Linked DNA regions of Homo sapiens: region 2 is linked to region 1. A link means that fine-mapping ties the variant in region 1 to the expression of a gene that starts in the linked region. Tissue or cell type: whole blood. Region 1 holds a variant in brackets; the other region holds the start of a gene. All regions are shown on one strand. Distances are between the middles of the regions.

Region 1 (2,905 bases):
TCCCGGGTTCACGCCATTCTCCTGCCTCAGCCTCCCGTGTAGCTGGGACTACAGGCGCGCGCCACCATGCCTGGCTAATTTTTGTATTTTTAGTAGAGACGGGGTTTCACCGTGTTAGCCAGGATGGTCTCGATCTCCTGACCTCGTGATCCGCCCGTCTCGGCCTCCCAAAGTGCTGGGATTACAGGCGTGAGCCACTGCGCCCGGCCGAGAATCTTGCTGTTATTTCTACATTGGTGTCTGTGGCTGCTTTTATTATCTCCTTATCGAAACCTAAAAGCTCTGCTCTTGTGTTTAGGTCTGTGATCCATTTTGAATTAATGTTTATGTATGGTATGAGGTAAGGATTTATTTATTTCTTTATGCCATATGGATATCTAGTAGTCCCTGCACCATTAGAAGGTAATATTTTTATCAAGGAACTCCATGACACATCTCTGGACCTGCCCTTCATCTAGACCAGCAGGGCTCAGCTGGGCATGAGTTTGCCCCTCTTTCCGTCAGTGGCACAGGTGTCTTGGTGGGCTGGGTTGCCACAAAATGCCTCAGGTAGGAGGCACGGGACAGCCCTTGCAACAAAGAGTCATTCCAGCCCAGTGGTCAATGGTGTGATGTTGAGAAGCTCTGCTGTGTAAGTGTATGTTTGAGCTGTTATGATTAGGTGTGTAATCCATTTTAAGTTAATCTTGGATGTGGAGTCCAAGTTCAGTTTGTTGTTTTTGGTTTTTCCCCATATGATTATCCCGTTGTTCCTGCACCCTTTCCTCCTCCATGAAATCACCTTGCATCTTCGTCAAGATGCAGTTGGCTATACCTGTGTGGGCTCTTTCTGGAGTCTTTTCTGTGCACTGAGCTATGGCCATCCTTACGCCAATTCCCAGGGTCCTTTTTATTTGAGCCGTACCTGTGTCTTAAAATTGTGAATTGCAAGTCCCCAATTGGCTTTCTGTTTTTTGATGTGGTTTTGGCTTTTCTAGCTCCTTTGCCTTTTCATATACATTGTAGAATCAATTTGTCAATTTCTACAGACGAAAACATGCAGTACAATTCTGATTGTGATTACACTAAATTTACAGATCAAGCTGGGGATTAACTCGCAAAAAGAGTCCGGCCACTTATGGAAAGAAGGCAAAATAATAAGTTATGATGAGAAAGAGTGATATTCCTTTATTATTTGTGCAGGCAAGGGGAAGAGCAGTTCCACTCTTCAGTTTGTGGAGGGAACGCAGGGTTTTACAGAAAGGGTTTGGAATGCGGAAGAGGCAAGGGGGACTAAGAGGTGCCAGGTGGCGTGACTTGCTTCAGTGGCCCTTCTTGAATTATTGTCCCATTTGGTGAAGGGGCCGGCACCATTGTGCATCCTACCAGGTTATAAATTAATCACAGTCAATCTTGTAGTCACTCTTCAGCCAGGAGAGGGTTCTGGCCTTGAAATAAT[C/T]TTTTGTTGGAAAGAGAATTCCGGAGTTGCCTAGTCCCTTTTAGGACCCGACCCCTGAAGCTTCTAAGCAAATAAATGGCCAGATAAGAGAGCATGGTGTGTGCTTAACTAGTATCTGGGTAAATACATGTGCATAAAGCATGGGAGCATACAGTGGGAAAAGAAAGAAGAGTGGAGGGCCCGGGTTCGGTGGCTCACGACTGTAATCCCAGCACTTCGGGAGGCTGAGGTGGGTGGATTGCCTGAGGTCAGGAGTTCCAGACCAGCCTGGCCAACATGGTGAAACCCCATCTCTACTAAAAATACAAAAAATTAGCCAGGCGTGGTGGCACACGCCTGTAATCCCAGCTACTTGGGAGTCTGAGGCAGGAGAATCACTGGAACCCAGGGGGTGGTGGTTGCAGTGAGCGGAGATTGCACCACTGTACTCCAGCCTGGGCGACAGAGCGAGACTGTTTCCAAAAATAAAAATGAAAGGGAGTGGAGGTTCGCAGCACATTCCAAGGCTGTATTTCGAGATGAAAGGTAACACATATGCAGTTTGTCTCAAAGTTTTATCTTGAGACTGGGAAGGGGAAGAGGAAAAGGAAAAGAAAAAACAGTTTGAAACACAGTTTGAGGCTAGGCTGCTAGGCTGCTAAGCTCTTCGGGCAGAGGGAGAATTGACACTCAACAGTGTTGAGTCGTCTGATCCATGACCATTGTCTAGTTTTTCAGACATTTAATTTCTCCCAATATTTTGTCATTTTCATGATATAGGTCTTCCATATGTTTTATTAAATTTATCCCTACGTATTTTGTGTTTTATAGAGCTGTTGTAAATGGTAGTATTTTTAAATTTTCAACTTCTAATTGTTTATACTGGAATAGAGGAAGGCAGTTTCTTTTTGTATGTTGACTTTGTATTCTACTTTTCTAAGCTCATTGATGACTTGTGGTAGTTTATTTATAGGCTCTGTCATATTTTCTACTCAGACGATCAGGTTATCTAAAAATAAATGCCATTTACATCTTCCTTTCCAGTCTGGATGCTTTTATTGCTTTTCCTTTTTGTGCCGGTGAGAACCTCCAGTAAAATGTAGCCTGGAAGTGGTGTGAGCAGGCACTCTCGCCTTGTTCTGGTCTCCACAGCACAGCATTCAGTCTTCCACAGCTCAATAAACTGTAGGTTGTTTATAGATGCATTTTATCAGGATGAGGAAGTGCCTTTCTATTCCTAGTTTTCTGAGAATTTTTTTCCGTGAGTAGGTGTTAAAATTTTGTCAAATCCTTTTTATGCATTTTTTTTTTTTTTTGAGATGGAGTCTCACACTGTCGTCTGGGCTGGATTGCAGTGGGTGATCTTGGCTCACTGCAACCTCCGCCTTCTGGGTTCAAGCGATTCTCTTGCCTCAACCTCTCGAGTAGCTGGGATTACAGCTGCCTGCCACCATGCCTGGCTAATTTTTTTGTATTTTTAGTAGAGAT
Region 2 (2,905 bases), 79 kb before region 1:
GTCCATGGCTTGTCAAAGGTCACCAGCTAGTGAGCACAGAACCAGGTTAGCCCAGGTGGTACAGCTTCAGAGCTCACATGCGTAACTTGTTACATTATTCCTACTCAGGAAGTGGAAACCCCAGGAACAGATGGCTGATTGGAGGAGGGACCAGCATAAGGAAAGGGGCAGGATTCAGGGGTGGGAGGGGAAGTCGATATCTGTTTTGGATGCATGTCAGCACCAGCGTGGGAGTAGGCAGTGAGCTGTTGAAAATTCTGGAGTTCAGAAATAACCGTGTCTTGCAAATCCAGATGCAGAGGTCACTGCTTGAAGGTGGCAGTTTGCACCTTGGATATGAAGGAAATTGCTAAGAAGAAAGCAGTGAGAAGATGAGGGCACCAAAATTCAAGAAATGGCAGGGAAGGATCTGTGTATGGAGGGAGGAGGAGGTCAGAGGTGGCTGGAGCCCCAGGATGAAATAGGCAATGTTAGATATCGGCCACCTGTTGACAAGGGTCCCAGACTCAGCATCCTCTGAGTGGGTCTTCTCCCTCCCCTCTGCAGCCTGCCTTGCTTCACTGTTGCAAGCTTCCTAGTAAACCAGTCTTCTCCCTGCTATAATTTTATATTGCTTGTTGAAACGATATTCCAACAAGTAACATAAATATTTTTGATATACTAGGCTAAATAAAACATATTTAAAAATTAATGTCACCTATTTATCTTCATTTTTCTAATGTGGTCACTAGAAATTTACAAGTGCACTTGTGGCTCCCATGATGTTCCTATTGGTTGGTGCTGTGCTCCCACAGTGCAACGACTTCAATCTCGCCAAGACCTCTGGCTTGAGTTAAGCCAGGAAAACAGATACCACTCTAGACATCTCAAGCATGAAAGAATATAGCTCCAGGGAAGGCCAAGTCCTCACGAAGGGATGCAGAGCTCGGTGGTAAAGAGCACCGTTTTCTAAGAATTTGCTTTCAACAAAAATTGGGAACGCCCAATCAAGTTATTCGCTGACACAAATTAAAAGAGATTGATACATCAGTATGTGATTTTGGCATTTAAGTCCAAAGAATTGAATGACATTGCTACTCCTCCTTCACACGGGTGCCTCCGAGGGTCCCCGCTAAGGCCTCTCCCTCTCCACCCTATGGGCAGCTGACCTGCCGGGGGCCTCACCTGCTGGAGGAGCAACTGCAGGAGAAGCACCTGTTAGGGGCCGCACCTGGCCGGAGGGGCTCCTGCGGGGGAAGCACCTGCCCAGGGTGCACCTACCGTGTGCAGGCTGCGGACCACCCGGACAGGTGCCCCCTCGGCAGGGAGGGCGGTCACGGGGGCCGGCCAGGTCGGGGTGGGGTCCTCCCGGGGATCCAGACACGGCCCTGTGGCCTCTCCCCGCCCCAAGCCTTTCCTTTCTCTCCCCCTCTCTCTCTTCCTCTCCTTCCTCCTTCCCACAACACCGCCCGCTCGCAGCGCCCCGCCCTCTCCTGGACCGCGCACTCCCTCCGCGGAGGCCCCAGGACGCGCACGAGCGCGCAGTGGACGTCGGCGCGCGGACCGGGCATGGGTTCCCCAGCTGTGGCGCCCCGCGTGCGCGTTCCGTAGTGCCCGGTAGGGCACTGGGCTTAGCTGCTCGAGGCCGCGCCCTAAGAGGCGGGGCATAGACAGGAAGAAGACTGGCGGGCATGTGGGCGGGGCATGATCTGGAGGCGGGGCGGGCCGGGCGTGTGGGCGAGGCCCGAGGCTCGCGGCGCCCCAGCTCTCGCGAGAGCGGCGCCTGATGACGACCGGGAGGGCGGGGCCCGTCTGGGGCGCCGGCGGGTGCGTTTGAATCTGGTCCGAGCGCGGGAAACGGCGGGTCCCCGAGCCCAGGTAAGAGCTGCGGTGCCGAGCCGGGATTGGGTTCAGAGCAGGGGCTGGGAAGTAGCAGGGATCGGGCGGGAAGCCCCTCCTCGGCTGGTCGGGGTCCCAGCCTCCCCTCCCCTAAGGAGGCGGCCGACCTGCGTGCGGGCAGTGCTGCCTCTGACGGAACTGGACGGAACTGGCGACCCCGGGCCATCCCCCCTACCCAGCTCAGCGACGCCCGTCCTTCTTGTCCGTGTCGGAGGAAAATCCCAGCCCCGGGCGCGGGCACTGCCCTCAGAGAGCGACCCCCCAGCCCTGAGCATGGGCACCGTCCTCAGAGAGTGTCCCCTCAGTCCTGGGCATGGGCACTGCCCTCAGAGAGCGACCTCCTCTGTCCTGGGCATGGGAACTGCCCTCAGAGAGTGTCCCCTCAGTCCTGGGCATGGGCACTACCCTCAGAGAGCGACCCCCTCAGTCCTGAGCATGGGCACTGCCCTCAGAGAGCGTCCCCTCAGTCCTGGGCATGGGCACTACCCTCAGAGAGCGACCCCCTCAGTCCTGAGCATGGGCACTGCCCTCAGAGAGCGACCCCCTCAGTCCTGGGCATGGGCACTGCCCTCAGAGAGCGTCCCCTCAGTCCTGGGCATGGGCACTACCCTCAGAGAGCGACCCCCTCAGTCCTGAGCATGGGCACTGCCCTCAGAGAGCGTCCCCTCAGTCCTGGGCATGGGCACTGCCCTCAGAGAGCGACCCCCTCTGTCCTGGGCATGGGAACTGCCCTCAGAGAGAGTCCCCTCAGTCCTGGGTGTCGGTACTGCCCTTAGAGAGAGTCCCCCTGAGCCCTGGGTGTAGGCACTGCCCTCAGAGAGTATCTCCCCAGCTGTGGACGTGGGCATTGTCCTCAGAGACATCAGTCTCCTGAACTCTTGTTGCTGGTTTGGTGCCTCTTGTTGTGTCCATGAGGAAGGAGTTTGGGGACGGAGTGGGAAGTCACAGGTGGTGAGAAGGTAACAGGGATTTCTTCTTTTTAATGCTCATCTTGATTTAGTACCAGACCTCCTGTGCGAAGAGTAAC

What was found. PIP is the estimated chance that this variant, and not a neighbour inherited with it, causes the effect.
Region 2: NCAPG2 starts here. The variant in region 1 is fine-mapped to the expression of NCAPG2 in whole blood (TOPMed, PIP above 0.99).

Annotation. Positions count from the first base shown.
Region 1 is chr7:158,625,159-158,628,063 of GRCh38, reverse strand. No RefSeq gene overlaps it. Among named protein-coding and RNA genes, the nearest start is that of MIR5707, 35 kb to the right of the region's middle. The variant C/T (reference allele first, on the strand shown) is at 1,439.
Region 2 is chr7:158,703,676-158,706,580 of GRCh38, reverse strand. NCAPG2 (non-SMC condensin II complex subunit G2) reads left to right here and starts at 1,777. Exons shown (of 28, transcript NM_017760.7): 1 at 1,777-1,857. RefSeq lists silencers at 1,121-1,400, 1,521-1,610, 1,761-1,860 and an enhancer at 2,438-2,905.